2 separate regions of the Homo sapiens genome follow, and region 2 is linked to region 1. The links come from fine-mapping of genetic effects on gene expression. Tissue or cell type: unexposed skin. Region 1 holds a variant in brackets; the other region holds the start of a gene. All regions are shown on one strand. Distances are between the middles of the regions.

Evidence for each region. PIP is the estimated chance that this variant, and not a neighbour inherited with it, causes the effect.
Region 2: it holds the start of DNAH3, and the variant in region 1 is fine-mapped to the expression of DNAH3 in unexposed skin (GTEx, PIP above 0.99).

What each region holds. Positions count from the first base shown.
Region 1 is chr16:20,981,650-20,989,649 of GRCh38, forward strand. DNAH3 (dynein axonemal heavy chain 3) reads right to left here. Exons shown (of 62, transcript NM_001347886.2): 45 at 6,293-6,416; 46 at 6,044-6,200; 47 at 5,656-5,799; 48 at 3,400-4,066; 49 at 1,072-1,237. Among named protein-coding and RNA genes, the nearest start is that of LYRM1, 85 kb to the left of the region's middle. The variant T/C (reference allele first, on the strand shown) is at 4,943.
Region 2 is chr16:21,147,531-21,155,530 of GRCh38, forward strand. DNAH3 (dynein axonemal heavy chain 3) reads right to left here and starts at 3,316. Exons shown (of 62, transcript NM_001347886.2): 1 at 3,221-3,316; 2 at 2,760-3,004. The coding sequence starts at 2,789. RefSeq lists an enhancer at 5,478-5,772.

The sequences.
Region 1 (8,000 bases):
GGGAGGCGGAGGTTGCTGTGAGCCGAGATCGCACCACTGCACTCCAACCTGGGCGACAGAGTGAGACTCCATCTCAAAATAAATAGATAAATAAATAAATAAATAAAATAAACAATGATTGAACCTACTGTGTGCCAAGCACCTTCTAGAAACTAAGGAAACAGAGGTAGACAAGGTTGACTGATCTCTAGCCTTCATGGAACATCCAGAATGACTGATATTCTCACCTCTTCCCTTACTCTAGCCAAATAAAATGCTTTTTTTATATATGTATGCATATATACATACATAAAGTGTATAAAGCACATATATTATATATAATAAAGCATATATATAAAGCACATATATAATATATAATATATATAATTAAGTATATATATATAATAAAGCACATATATATATGTGCTTTATACATAAAAGAGTAAATTTTCACCCTTATAGGAACTAATTTTTGCCAGGTGCAGTAGCTCACACCTGTATTCCCAGCACTTTGGGAGGCCAAGGCGGGCAGATTACGTGAGGTCAGGAGTTCGAGACCACCCTGGCCAACATGGCGAAACCCCATATCTAGTAAAAATATAAAAATTAGCTGGACGTGATGGCAGGTGCCTGTAATCCCAGCTGCTTGGGGGAGGCTGAGGCATGAGAATCACTTGAATCTGGGAGGCAGAGGTTGCTGTGAGCTGAGATTGCACCAAGGAACTCCAGCCTGGGGGATAGAGCAAGACTCCATCTCAAAAACAAATAAACAAACAAACATTGTTTTGTGGTCTCAGCAGCAATCTTCTTCCTGTTGAGAATGCATATTCTAGGACTACTGAAATAGCTATATCATTATTCCAGGTTCTCATAGCTAGGACAAATCTCCAGGACAATTCTGAACAATGAAATTTTCTTCTTTTACAGACAAGATGCTTTATTAAATATCTAACTAACTGTGATTCAATTTAAAAGCATAAGACATTTGCTATATACAAATTGAGAAATCTTCAAAACAACAACAAAAATAGAGCCAGCGTCTGGACTTCAAATTTGGAATATCTAGAGTCCTAAAATGCAATCAACACTTACTCTACCCGAATGTTGTCATCAAGCTCCACATCCTCTAGAAATTTGTTAGCCACCAACTCTAGGGCATCTGTGGGCCAGGACTGGAACCAATCAATCGTACAGCAATTGATCAGCGAAGGGAACATCCGCAGGCGGTTCCTGAAGGCATCCCCTATTGGACTCATGGCTAATGAAAAGGAGATTTTGTTAATTACCTTCCTCCAAGGCAGGTGGACCCAAGGAGGCAGGCGGGTATTCCCAAGGATTCTGGTGGGGTAAGTGGGGGCAGGCTTCCTCCTGGCGCTCCAGGGATGTGACTGTCAATGGCCATAATGAGTGCCTGGGAAATGCGGGCTAATTAGTGGGATATTTTCACTTAACTTTGTGAGGAGCCCATTACAATAGCCCCTTTTTAAAAAAAATTTTAATTTTTTATTTTTTATTAAGACAGATTCTTGCTCTGTCACCCAGACTGGAGTGCAGTGGCGCAATCTCGGCTCACTGCAACCTCCGCCTCCTGGGTTCAAGCTATTCTCCTGCCTCAGCTTCCTGAGTAGCTGGGACTATAGGCACCCACCACCACTTCCAGCTAATTTTTGTATTTTTAGTAGAGACGGGGTTTCACCATTTTGGCCAGGCTGGTCTCAAACTCCTGACCTCAAGTGATCTGCCCGCCTCAGCCTCCCAAAGTGCTGGGATTACAGGCGTGAGCCACCATGCCTGAGTCTATTACCTTCTAACTGGTCTCCCATACACACTATTGTTCCTTCCGCATCCTTCGGGTCACGTAGCCAGTGTGGCTGGAGCCCTTTGATTGACTTGCTGTATTTGTGCTGATACACGGGAGCCATACACTGTTATTTATAGAAGTTGCTGTGAGGTCATCTGCTTGTTTCTGATCCCATCTCTGGCCAATAACAAATTTTGGGTTCCACACTTAAAATTCCATTCATTGTTATTTAGACTATGTGTGGTGGAAGGGAGCATGATGTCTAGGTGGAAGTGAAAGGTCACTGTGGGTAAAGAACAGAGGCCTGGCACAGTGGCTCACGTCTGTAATCCCAACACTTTGGGAGGCCAAGGCAGGAGGATCATTTGAGCCCAGGAGTTTCAGACCAACCTGGGCAACAAAGTGAACCCCACATCCCCGTCCCCTATCTCTACAAAAATGGAAAAAATTAGCTGGGCATCGTGGTGTGTGCCTGTAGTCCCATGTACTCAGGAGGCTGAGGTGAGAGGATCACTTGAGCCCAGGAAGTTGAGCCTGCAGTGAGCTAGAACCACATCACTGCACTCCAGCCTGGGTGACAGAGCAAGACCCTATATCCAGAAAAAAAAAAAAAAAAGACAGAAAGGGCGATGGTTTGAAAAGATGAAGGTGGAGAGGATACAGAGGACAGTCTGGCAGGTGGCCTTATGGCATTATGAGACCGCAGGTTAGTAATTTTGGTCCTTATCCCAATGTGTGTGTGTGTGTGTGTATATGTGTGCACGTGTGCGCATGCGTGCGTGTGTGTGTGTGTGTATGCATGCATGAACACAATGATAATATTTGCAGCATATGAAAAAAATCAGCCTGGCTTCATGGAACAGACAAGAATGGAGCTAGAATGATTAGAAAGTTGCAGAGGTGAGCCTGGGTAAAAGGATGGCAGCTTAGCCAATGTGAAGGTGATGGAGATGGAGATAAGAGAGTGGATATGAGACAGCTGGAGGTAACAGACAGGACTTGGTAAAGAAAGGGAAGTACTAAACACAATTGCTAGGTTTCTAGATACATTGGAAATGTCGTTCACAGAGAAAACCCGAGATGTCATTCTGTGCAAGGGTAATTCTCAGAGGAGAATTCAGGAAATTGAAGACGGGGGACAGGTTTGAAATTATTCAGGGTCCGGCACGGTGGCTTATGCCTGTAATCCCAGCACTTCGGGAGGCCGAGGCGGGCAGATCACTTGAAGCCAGGAGTATGAGACTAGCCTGGCCAACATGGTGAAACCCCTCTCTACTAAAAATACAAAAATTAGCAGGTGTGGTACGCGCCTGCAATCACAGCTACTCAGGAGGCTGAGGCACCAGAATCGCTTGAAACTGGGAGGCAGAGGTTGCAGTGAGCTGAGATCTCACCACTGCACTCCAGCCTGGGCAACAGAGCAAGACTGTCTTTAAAAAAAAAATTGCTGCTCAGAAGAGTGAAAAAAGTTGCCAGAGGAACTCCGGGCCCTGACCCCGAGCTGGTGCGTTGGCTGAATCAACCCTGGGACCATTGTAAGGGATTGGCCTGCTCAGGGCACTCAGAAGACCCCAAAACACCCAGAAGAACAAGGGCAAATGGAGTTTTCTTCTTCTTACCGAGGACAATGTGAAGGTTCTTTCTCACCCTCTCAATAAAGAAGTTATACATAGAAAGAGGAGTGACTTCAACCTTCTCTCCTTGGGTCCTGGCTGCAGTCTGCATCTTCTCCACGATGTCAGCCTTCTCGTCAGCAGGGAAGATGTTAGGCACGTCACCTGTGTTCAGAAGCATGTTGATGTCCTCCACGAATGATTCATCCTTGATCTGGTTGTCGGCGAAGAGGAACACGGTGCTCTTGGTGGCCACACCGACCTGCAGTATGATCTTCTTAAGATCTTCTCGCCAGTCATTGCCTGCGTAGTTCTTGGTGATCTCAATCTGGTATAGCTCGTATGCGTTCATGAATGTGGACAGTTTGGCGGCACTTTGCCGCCCGCTGCCCCCTATGCCCACCAGGAGCAGGTGGCCTTTGTCCTGCTTCAGGACACGGCAGATCCTAGAGATGTGCTCAATGGCAAACCTGAACATGACCAGGGACATGGGGGCCTTGCTGATGTTGTTGAATTCTTCCAGATAGTGCTCCATGACCACAGTCAGCTGTTTCAGGTCAGTGATCTCATCGTAGATTTTTTGGTCACTTTCTGGCTTGAAATAATCTCCAAAGAAGAGGCTTCGAATGTTATCATCGACTATCTTTCCAGTGGGTGACAAGTGGATAAGCACCTGTAAGAAAAGTAAATCTCGGCGGGGCATTCAGTGAATGGCCCAGCCAGGCTGGTAGGGACATCATGGAGGGAGGGCATGGGAGACGTGGCTTATTTCCTCTGAGCACATCCTTCAAGGTCATGGGTCATCAGTTTTGTTTTGTTTCGTTTTGTTTTGAGACAGAGTCTCACTCTGTCGCCCAGGCTGGGGTGCAATGGTGTGATCTCGGTTCACTGCAACCTCTGCCTCCTGGGTTCAAGCGATTCTCCCGCCTCAGCCTCCCAAATAGCTGGGATTACAAGCACCCACCATCATGCCTGGCTAATTTTTGTATTTTTGTAGAGATGGAGTTTCATCATGTTGGCCAGGCTGGTCCTGAAACTCCTGATATCAGGTTACCTGCCCACCTCGTCCTCCCAAAGTGCTGGGATTACAGGCATGAGCCACTGTGCCCGGCCCAGTCTTTTTGTTTTTTAAACATAATATGTGGATTTCATGCTTGTAAAGACTATAATGAAAGAACATTGCTGGGCACGGTGGCTCATGCCTGTAGTCCCAGCACTTTGGGAGGCCGAGGCAGAAGGATCATTTGAGCTCAGGACTTCAAGACCAGCCTGGGCAACATAGTGAGACTCAGTCTCTACAATAAAATAAGAAAAAATTAACTGGGCATCGTGGTGCACACCTGTAATCCCAGCTACTCAGGAGGCCGAGGTGGAGGACTGCTTGAGCCCAGGAGCTTGAGGCTGCAGTGTGCTATGATCATACCATTGCACTCCAGCCTGGGTGACAGAGTGAGGTCCTACCTCTAAAAATAAATATTTTTTTTGTTAAAAGAAAGGACATTAGAGTATGAACGCTTTAATCAGTCTATTTGCCATGTGATTAAAACAT[T/C]GGTGATCAGTTTGTACGGTCCCCAGAAAAGACAGTTGAAGGATGTGCTTTTCTTAGGTGCTTGATCCTCCACCAAATAGAAGTATAGACACTATCCTGGTCCCCACTCTGTGCCTGGAGTAGGAACGTTTTAGATGCCTCCTCGTCCTATGTTAGAACCCAGTGACGCTTTTGCACTTGGCCTCTGAACGCAAGATAAAACACTTGAAATTTTTCTATGGAGAAATCACAGCTTCTTAGCAGTGGAAGAATAACCAGATGATAAAAATATAGATGTTTAAAACAACTTTTCTTATATGGAAATGGAAAAGAGAAAATATTCACACCTGGAAAACCATAACAATCTTTCACTTGAGCTTTATAGGACCTCAGTCAAATCATGACAATGTACAGTTCATTTCTCAACTCACCAATTAATTGATCCTAAAAATGCATTTTAAGTTCATAATAAACATTCATTTATAATGAACTTAAAATGCATGTTAAGCCATTTTGAGTGGATTCAAACTTATATGTTACAACAGAAGGGAAGCAAAGTTGGACCAAGTAAAATATCACCAAGTCAAAAAGAGCAGTTGACTCAATACTGTTTCCCGAGATTCAGAGTGCAGAGCTGGCAGTCTCCAACAGGAAGGGAACCTGAAATCTGAAAGTAACGTGGTTAAACACTTGGAACCATTTCTGAGGTCAAATGATCACAGAATCTGGTTTACCTTCTCTATGGTCTGCTTGAAGCAATTGGAGGTGGTTTCCTTCACCATGTTGAAAAAGACCTGTCTGTCCTCCTTGTCAATCAGACGATCATAGAAGACCCGATAAACCTCATGGATCCAAAGCCGGATACATTTTTCTACATCCTAAAAATCCAGAGTTAATTATTCAAACGAGTGGAAGATGGTCCCTGAGGTGGTAGTTCTCAGTAGTAGGTAAGTCCTGGGGTTGATTTGAGGATTGAACTAGATAATGTTTATAAAATGCTTAGCACAATGCCTAGCATAGACTAAGTGCCTAATAAAAGTTAGCTATTACTGCTATTACTACATGTTCTATGTAGCCAAGGATATGCTGAATGATCTTGGTAGTAAAATGATAGTGGCTGACCTGCAGGTGTGTGTGAGGGCACAGCAGGACCCCTTGAATCACTCGTGAGAAGTCCCGCAGGTTAAAGACGTAATGTGACTTCGAGGGAGTTGGCAAGAAGTTCTCCACTGCATCTCTATAAATTGTCTTAGTAGCTTGGACCAGCATCTTTCCGTACCTTGGGAGGAAAGGGATGGCACAGTAGTCAAGGAGGGGCCAGAAACTGAGAACCCCCAGCCCACTATCCAGGAAGACAGAGAAACCTCTTACCTTAAAAACATCACATCAAACCCTTTCCCGAAGTGCCAGTCAACAATCGAACTGAAAATCTTGGTTAAAATGTCATCCTCAAAGGCATTGATGGAAATGATATTCAGATGGCGAGTGAATCGTCCTGGGGAATACAACACACAAGTGAATCATCCTGGAAAACACATATTCTCACACTGTCTGTGACCCTAGGATGCACACGAGGTGGCTTTGCCTTCTGCCTTCATGTTCCAGAGCTGTGCTGTGCAATATGGCAACCTCTAGCCACCTGCAGCAAATTTAAACTTAAATTAATTAATATTAAATAACATTAAAAATGCTCTTCCTTAGTCTCACCACACTTCAAGTGCTCAAGAGCCACATGTGGCTAGTGGCTACCGTATTGCTCAGTACAGATATAGAGCATCTCCATACTGCGGAAGTTCTACTGAGTGCTAGTTTAGTGCTCATTATTATATCATATCATGTTGTATTATATTACATTACTTTTTGAGATGGAGTTCCCCTCTGTTGCCCAGGCTGGAGTGCAGTGGTGCCATCTCAGTTCACTGCAACCTCCGCCTCCCGGGCTCAAGAGATTCTCCAGCCTCAGCCTCCAGAGTAGCTGGGACTACAGGCCTCCCAGAGTGCTGTGATTGCAGGCATGAGACACCGCGCCCAGCCTCAAGAATGTTTTTAAAAGATAAAGGCAATACATGATCATTGTAAAAGAGTCTATCAATTCAGGAATACTTTTGTTGAAAGTGAAAATCTCCTTTTGTGTCCGGAATTGGTGGGTTCTTAGTCTCACTGACTTCAAAAATGAAGCCGCGACCCCTCGCGGTGAGTGTTACAGCTCTTAAGGTGGCGCGTCTGGAGGTTGTTCCTTCTGATGTTCGAATGTGTTCGGAGTTTTTTCCTTCTGGTGGGTTCGTCATCTCGCTGGCTCAGGAGTGAAGCTGCAGACCTTCGCGGTGAGTGTTACAGCTCTTAAGGCGGCATGTCTGGAGTTATTCGTTCCTCCCGGTGGACTCGTGGTCTCGCTGGCTTCAAGAGTGAAGTTGCAGACTTTCGCGGGGAGTGTTACAGCTCATAAAAGCAGTGTGGACCCACAGAGTGAGCACCAGTAAGATTTACTGCAAAGAGCGAAAGAACAAAGCTTCCACAGTGCGGAAAGAGACCCGAGCGGGTTACCACTGCTGGCTCGGGCAGCCTGCTTTTATTCTCTTATCTGGCCCCACCCACATCCTGCTGATTGGTAGAGCCGAGTGGTCTGTTTTGACAGGGTGCTGATTGGTGCATTTACAATCCCTGAGCTAGATACAAAGGTTCTCCTCGTCCCCATCAGATTAGTTAGATACAGAGCATCTACACAAAGGTTCTCCAAGGCCCCACCAGAGCAGCTAGATACAGAGTGTTGATTGGTGCACTCACAAACCTTGAGCTAAACACAGGGTGCTGATTGGTGTGTTTACAATCCTTGAGCTAGACATAAAGTTTTTCCAAGGCCCCACCAGAGCAGCTAGATACAGAGTGTCGATTGGTGCACTCACAAACCTTCAGCTAAACACAGGGTGCTGATTGGTGTGTTTACAATCCCTGAGCTAGACATAAAGGTTCTCCAAGTCCCCACCAGACTCAGGAGCCCAGCTGGCTTCACCTAGTGGATCCCGCACCGGGGCTGCAGGTGGAGCTGCCTGCCAGTCCCGGGCGGTACGCTCGCACTCCT
Region 2 (8,000 bases), 170 kb after region 1:
ACATGTGCAAAATTCCAAAGAGAAATTCACTCAGGCAGTGGCACTGAATTTTCTGTGTATTTAACACACACATAAGCAACTCTTTATGATTCCTGCGAAAAGAAAAAGTGTTATTTCAACAATGTGGGTGTTGAGTACTCCATTCCAACCAGTGAGTGCATACTGTGGAGTGAGCCTCAGGTAAGGGTCAACTTGTGGCTCCCACAATCACTCTCAGATTCCAAGTGACCCTCCACCTCTCCTGAGCAGAGAAGAAAGTGACTACATTATTGAATGAAATCACATGTGTTTTTGTCTTAAGACTTAGCCCCTATATGCAAAACAACCACTTCACCTGGGACTAGTGATGGAGAAACTGCAACTTGTTCCAACACTAGAAGAAAAGCTGTTGGCCTGGACTTATTGAGAGGTGCTGCCGTTCAGCACTTTAAAGGTGGTTTGAGGGATTTTCAAGGGCAATTTTGACTCTCTGTGATTTTCACCTTAGGCATTGACTTTGGACTTAACTCCTATATAAGATGAGCCAACATCGTATCAGTGTGATTTATTTGGGTGTGCAAATTATGACATGCAAGATCACTGATGAGGGTGGGATGGGGCAGGGGGCATATGACTATTAGCTGTCCCTCTGCCCCCAACCCCTTAAAGATGACTCAAATTAACCATCATTATCTCTCCCGGAGCACCTACCTCATTAAATAACAACAGAAAAACAACAACCGCAGCAATACTATCTACCATTATTCCAAACGATTATGTGCCAGGTACTGTACAACCTCATGAGATTTTTTTCATACCCGCATTCTAGCTGAAGAAAATGAGGGTGAGAAGATAGGTAACACATCCTAGCCATGTAATTGGCCGGCTTGACTTCTAAGTCAGTGACTTATTTATTATTATTATTATTATTTATTTTTTTTTTTTGAGTCCAAGTTTTCGCTCTGTCGCCCAGGCTGGAGTGCAGTGACACAATCTTGGCTCACTACAACTGCAACCTCCACCCCCTAGGTTCGAGCGATTCTCCTGCCTCAGCTTCCTTACTGCATCATGCAAACTGACAGGGACGCTGTTCTCGGGATAATGAAGAAAGCAAACCGTGAGCATTTTGCAGAACACAATGGAAAGAGGGAGAACCTCTGTAGAAACAAATTAAACTAGGCTATGTCATAGGCTTGGACTAAAACAAATACACAAACAGTCATAAGTACGCTGATAGCAGAAAGCATCCCAGTCTGTCGATCAGGAACACATGGGGCACACACAACATGAGCAGATCTAGGCATCAATTGCAGAATGGGGCTAAAAGAGTTTTCCTGGCAATAAATGGCTAAGAATCCTCTGTGGCACCTTCAAGAGATCGAGATTCTCATAAGAACTAGCTGGTTGTGCAAAATTGTTTGTTAAAAATATGAATGCTTGGCCAGCCGTGGTAGCTAATGTCTATAATCCCAGCACTTTGGGAGGCCGAGGCGGGTGGATCACTTGAGGCCAGGAGTTCGAGACCAGCCTGGCCAACATGGAGAAATCCCGTCTCTACTAAAAATACAAAAATTAGCCAGGCGGTGGCGCACACCTGTAGTTCCAGCTACTCAGGAGACTGAGGCAGGAGAATCGCTTGAACCCAGAAAGCAGACGCTTCAGTGAGTGAAGATCACGCCACTGCACTCCAGCCTGGATAACAGAGACAAACTGTCTCAAAAAAAAAAAAAGAAAGAAAGAAAAAGAAAGAAAGAAATTAATGCTTAAATCTTCTCTTTGGTAAATTTCAAGGAGCTTTCACTTCAGAGCATATTGGCTTAGTTATTATCTACAAATCCACTTTAGTTTTACAAAGTTTCTATTTAAAATGCTCCTCTGGGCACTTCGCTGTATGGCAACCTGGTGATTCAACACAGATACAACAGAAATTCTGGAACTTAGATTGGGTAGAACTGTCACTTTGGGCAGCTTATTGCTGATTACACATGTTGTATGTATGTTCTTCATGGAGGCCATTCCCAAATGCTCGTCTGAGGACGTGCTACACCAGAATCACTCTGGTCTTAGATAAAAATATAGATTCCAGGGCCCCACTCCAAATCTTCTGGATCGGAATCTAGGAGTGGGGGACCAAGACTCTATGTTTTTAAGATGCTCCCCAGAATATTCTAATGTTCAGCCACAGTCAAAAACTGATGGTTGGAATATATGGTCTAATGGGCTTGGAAGGGAAGGAAAGGGAAGAACGGGTGTCTATTCCCGGATTTTTCACAGCAAAACTTGAAGATTTCCAAAAGTCTAATTCAGCAAAAATGATATTTCAAAGCAGACAACAAAAAAATGTGATGAATACACTTGTTCAGTCAAGGGCATCTAACATGCCAATTGGCCCTCTTCCCACATATTCCCAACACATTAAAAATACAGGTAAATCGGCCAGACACGGTGGCTCACACCTGTAATCCCAGCACTTTGGGAGGCTGAGGCAGGCGGATCTCCTGAGATCGGGAGTTCAAGACCAGCCTGACCAACATGGATAAACCCTGTCTCCACTAAAAATACAAAATTAGCCAGGTGTGGTGGCACATGCCTGTAATCCCAGCTACTCAGGAGGCTGAGGCAGGAGAATCACTTGAACCCAGGAGGCGGAGGTTGCAGTGAGCCGAGATCACACCATTGCACTCCAGCCTGGGCAACAAAGAGCAAAACTCTGTCTCAAAATAAAAAATAAAAAAAAAAAATACAGGTAAAACAAGAAACGTCTTAAAATTCACACCTACCTTCTGAGATGAGCAATCCATGTCACCCATGGTGTCCACTCTAATTGTAGCTATTTTTTTAAAATGAATAAAGAGCTTTCAGCTTCTCCAGGGATGTGCCTCTCCTATCCAGTTGGTCTGAAATTCACACTTCCTTATAGCATAATGGGGATGACACCAACAATGGAACTTTCCAGATGTTCTGAAAGCTCTGTTCATGAGGTTGCCTCTCTGAGGTCATAGACTTTGGCCCGCTGAGGAGTTCCCTGGTAAAAAAGGAGAGAAAGGGAAGCTAGAGATAAGGGGACAGCACTGGGTTTCTGCTGCGCTTTTGGCTCTGGTTCCTAGTCCCCCAGCGGTGGCCACGCTTCCTTTCCCTTGAGTGCTTCTCTCTTGGAAATTTTCCAGAAACACACTGAGTTCACTGCAGAGGAAAGACTGAAGCAGAGTTACACATTAATACAGAGAAGAGGGAGACTCACCCCTCCAAACAACATCCTGGCAGCCCGAACTGTTCTCCCTCCTCCTCCCTGGACTCTTAACACTGGCAGTGCTTGTATGCAGGCGCTGGGCACAGTAACCATGTCTCAGCGTCTGTTGCTAAGGGAAGGAGGGGCCTCTGCGGTGCCTACATACAAGACTGGGCATGACCTAGCTCTGTGAGCTGGTGTCTCCCTTTGCTGGAGGCCCAGGTGGGCAGCAGGAAGTGTTGGTGACAGAAGGGAACATGGGAAGGTGTTTAGCAATGTTCCAGGAATAACAGAGGCAACAGCAATAAAAGACCTTTGGAGACGTCGAAAAGCACAGAGTATGGTGGTTAAGTTCTTGGGATCTACAATTGGACAGGTCATACTTCAGATCCTACTCTTCTCATTAATTAGCTGTGTGGCTTGGCAAGTTGTTTAATCTCTCCAAGTGTCCTTTCCGTCTGTAAAATGGCAATAATGTGAGTCCCTACTTCATAGGGTTGCTTTGAAGGGTTAACGGGATAACGTGTACAGAGCGATTTGCATATAGTAGAAGGATAACTGATATTTTCCCAGTTTTTCCCCGTTTTTTTTTTTTTTTTTGAGACAGAGTCTTGCTCTGTTGCCCAGGCTGCAGTGCAGTGGCGTGATCTCAGCTCACTGCAAGCTCTGCCTCCCGGGTTCACACCATTCTCCTGCCTCAGCCTCCCACCAGTGCGCCCAGCTAATTTTTTGTATTTTTAGTAGAGACGGGGTTTCACCGTGTTAGCCAGGATGGTCTCAATCTCCTGACCTCGTGATCCGCCCACCTCGGCCTCCCAAAGTGTGGGATTACAGGTGTGAGCCACTGCGCCCAGCCCAGTTTTTCCCCATTTTAACACTAAGTCCTGCATCCTGGGAGCAATCTCAGTCCTGGGCAAACTGGGATAGTTTGATCACCCAACACAGTCAATGCTCTATAAATGTTGTGGCTAACATCAATATTACGATAAACACAGAAATACATGTGCACATACTCAAAAGTAACAATATTAGCTGCCGCCCGAATATTAAAAGCACATGTTCCATGGTCACTGTGAAGTTCTCTCAAAACCAAGTTAGACTTAATGAGTTTTTTGGGGGTGCCATGCTTGCATATCTTTTTTTTTCATTCAATTTCCCCCCAAACACCACGATATTCCCATTTTAAGGATAAGGAATCAAAACTGAGAGATATGGGCCAGGTATGGTGGTTCATGCCTGTAATCCCAGCACTCTGAAAGGCTGAGGTGGATGGATCACTTGAGGTCAGGAGTTTGAGACCAGCTTGGCCAACATAGTGAAACCCCATCTCTACTAAAAATACAAAATTAGCCGGGCATGGTGGTAGTCGCCTGTAATCCCAGCTACTTGGGGGGCTGAGGCAGGAGAATCGCTTGAACCTGGGAGGGAGGTTGCAGTGAGCACAGATCATGCCACTGCACCCCAGCCTGGGCAACAAGAGCGAAACTCCATCTCAAAAAAAAAGAAAAACAAACAAAAAAACTGAGAGATACATAACTTTCCTAAGTCGACTTGACTCATAAGTAGCACTGATACAATTGGAACCTGTCCTGATGACCCCGAGTCCACTGCTCTTTCCATAACCTACCTGTCCAGAACACAAACATTCCCGAGTTCCTATGAAAAGCATTGCATAGTGAGAGGTGACAGCGTGCTGGCAGTCCTCACAGCCCTCGCTCGCTCTCGGCGCCTCCTCTGCCTGGGCTCCCACTTTGGCGGCACTTGAGGAGCCCTTCAGCCCACCGCTGCACTGTGAGAGCTCCTTTCTGGGCTGGGCAAGGCCGAAGCCGGCTCCCTCAGCTTGCAGGCAGGTGTGGAGGGAGAGGCGCGAGCGGGAACCCGGGCTGCGCACGGCGCTTGCGGGCCAGCTGGAGTTCCGGGTGGGCGTGGGCTTGGCGGGCCCCGCACTGGGAGCAGCCAGCTGGCCCTGCCGGCCCCGGGCAATGAGGGGCTTAGCACCCCGGCCAGCGGCTGCGGAGGGTGTACTGGGTCCCCCAGCAGTGCTAGCCCACCGGCGCTGCGCTCCATTTCTCACCGGGCCTTAGCTGCCTTCCCGCGGGGCAGGGCTCGGGACTTGCAGCCCGCCATGCCTGAGCCTCCCACCCCCTCCGTGGGCTCCTGTGCTGCCCGAGCCTCCCCGACGAGCGCCACCCCCTGCTCCACGGCGCCCAGTCCCACCGACCACCCAAGGGCTGAGGAGTGCGGGCCCACGGCGCGGGACTGGCAGGCAGCTCCACCTGCAGCCCCGGTGCAGGAGCCACTGGGTGAAGCCAGCTGGGCTCCTGAGTCTGATGGGGACGTGGAGAACCTTTATGGCTAGCTCAGGGATTGTAAATACACCAATCAGCACCCTGAGTCTAACTCAGGGTTTGTGAATGCACCAATCGACACTCTGTATCTAGCTGCTCTGGTGGGACCTTGGAGAACCTTTATGTCTAGCTTGGGGATTGTAAATACACCAATCAGCACTCTGTATCTAGCTCAAGGTTTGTAAACACACCAATCAGCACCCTGTGTCTAGCTCAGGGTCTGTGAATGCACCAATCCACACTCTGTATCTAGCTATTCTGGTGGGGCCTTGGAGAACCTTTGTGTGGACACTCTGTGTCTAGCTAATCTGGTGGGGACTTGGAGAACCTTTGTGTCTAGCTCAGGGATTGTAAACGCACCAATCAGCACCCTGTCAAAACAGACCACTAGGCTCTACCAATCAGCAGGATGTGGGTGGGGCCAGATAAGAGCATAAAAGCAGGCTGCCCGGGCCAGCAGTGGCAAGCCGCTTGATCCCCTTCTACAACGTGGAAGGTTTGTTCTTTCACTGTTTGGGTTCATGCCGCCTTAATAGCTGTAACACTCACGGTGAAGGTCTGCAGCTTCACTCCTGCGCCAGCGAGACCAGAAACCCACCAGAAGGAAGAAACTCCGAACACATCCGAGCATCAGAAGGAACAAACTCCAGACGCGCTACCTTAAGAGCTGTAACACTCACCGCGAGGGCCCACGGCTTCATTCTTGAAGTCAGTGAGACCAAGAACCTACGAATTCCAGACACAATAGAACCAAGTACTTCCATTTTCCCCCTTTTTCTACTCCTTTTCCTCAAAGTTGGGCTTTCCATCCTTTCAAAATAACCCTGAGCTTTTCCATCTCTTATATTATGCTCTTTATCACAAAGTATACATACGGTTTCAAATAGCATTTGGAATAATTGAGACAGTGGGAGAGCTGGAGACTCTGGTTTAGACGGAAATGGGAAGATTATCAGGTCTCCTATACTGGGTGTGAAACCTCATGTCCCACCAAAAACAGCAACTGTAATCCAATGAAGTGAAAAATTAGAATGGGGCCAGGCGCGGTGGCCCATGCCTATAATCCCAGCAGCTGGGGAGGCCAAGGCGAGTGGATCGCCTGAGGTCAGGGGTTCAAGACCAACCTGGCCAACATGGTGAAACCCCGTCTCTACTAAAAATACAAAAAATTAGCCGGGCGTGGTGGCAGGCACCAGTAATCCCAGCTTCTTGGGTTGCTGAGGCAGGAGAATTGCATGAACACAGGAGGTGGAGGTTGCAGTAAGCTGAGATCACACCATTGCACTCCAGCCTGTGTGACACAGCGAGACTCTGTCTCAAAAAAAAAAAAATTAGAATGGTCCTGATGTGGAGCTAATGGACCCTATGGCCTGTGTGTGAGTAGGAGGTATGCTACCATCTGAAATTTAGTGTGTTTTAAGTCTACTAGTGTTTAAAACTATCAAAACAATACTAATGGCTTTCGCTTATTGAGCATATACTATGCCCTGGGACTGCTGCTAGGCACTTAGTAGACATCATGTCTTTGAATCTTCTCAACAACCTAGAATATAAATATCAGTATTTTCACAAGTTTTATGATTGAGGAAACTGATACATTAAACTAACCTGCCCATAGTCACACAGCTAGGTCATCAGGAAAGCTTGAACTTGGTTATGAAATCTGTTCCATGGCTTCAACCGAAAACCTACATGTAATCTGAGGAAAGGTGGAAAATAAAGTATCTGCCAAAGAGAGTGAAAGTGACTTCCCCCAGGCCACCTCACCTGTACCAGAATTGTTTGTTGTCTGACAACTTTGTGTTGGATAATTCTTAAGAAAGGATATAGGCTTCAAGTTTCTCAATCTTCTTTTTCTTTCTTTCTTTTTTTTTTTTTTTTGAGATGGAATCTTGCTCTGTTGCCCAGGCTGGAGTGCAGTGGTATGATCTCGGCTCACTGTAACCTCCACCTCCTGGGTTCAAGTGATTCTCTTGCCTCAGCCTCCCCAGTAACTGGGATTACAGGCGTGTGCTAACACACCTGGCTTATTTTTGTATTTTTAGTAGAGATGGGGTTTTGCCATGTTGGCCAGCCTGGTCTCGAACCCCTGACCTCAAGTGATCTGCCCACCTCCGCCTCCCAAAGTGCTGGGATTCAGGCATGAGCCACCATGCCCGGCCTTGTTTCTCAATTGGGCTGCCAGACAAAACAGAAGGTGCCCAGTTAAATTAGAGTTTCAGTCAAACAATTTTTCAGGTAAAAGAATGTTTTAGGGCCGGGAGCAGTGGCTCATGCCTGTAATCCCAACACTTTGGAAGGCCGAGGCAGGCGGATCACAAAGTCAGGAGTTTGAGACCAGCCTGACCAACATGGTGAAACCCTGTCTCTACTAAAAATACAAAAATTAGCTGGGCGTGGCGGCACATGCCTGTAATCCCAGCTACTCCGGAGGCTTTGGCAGG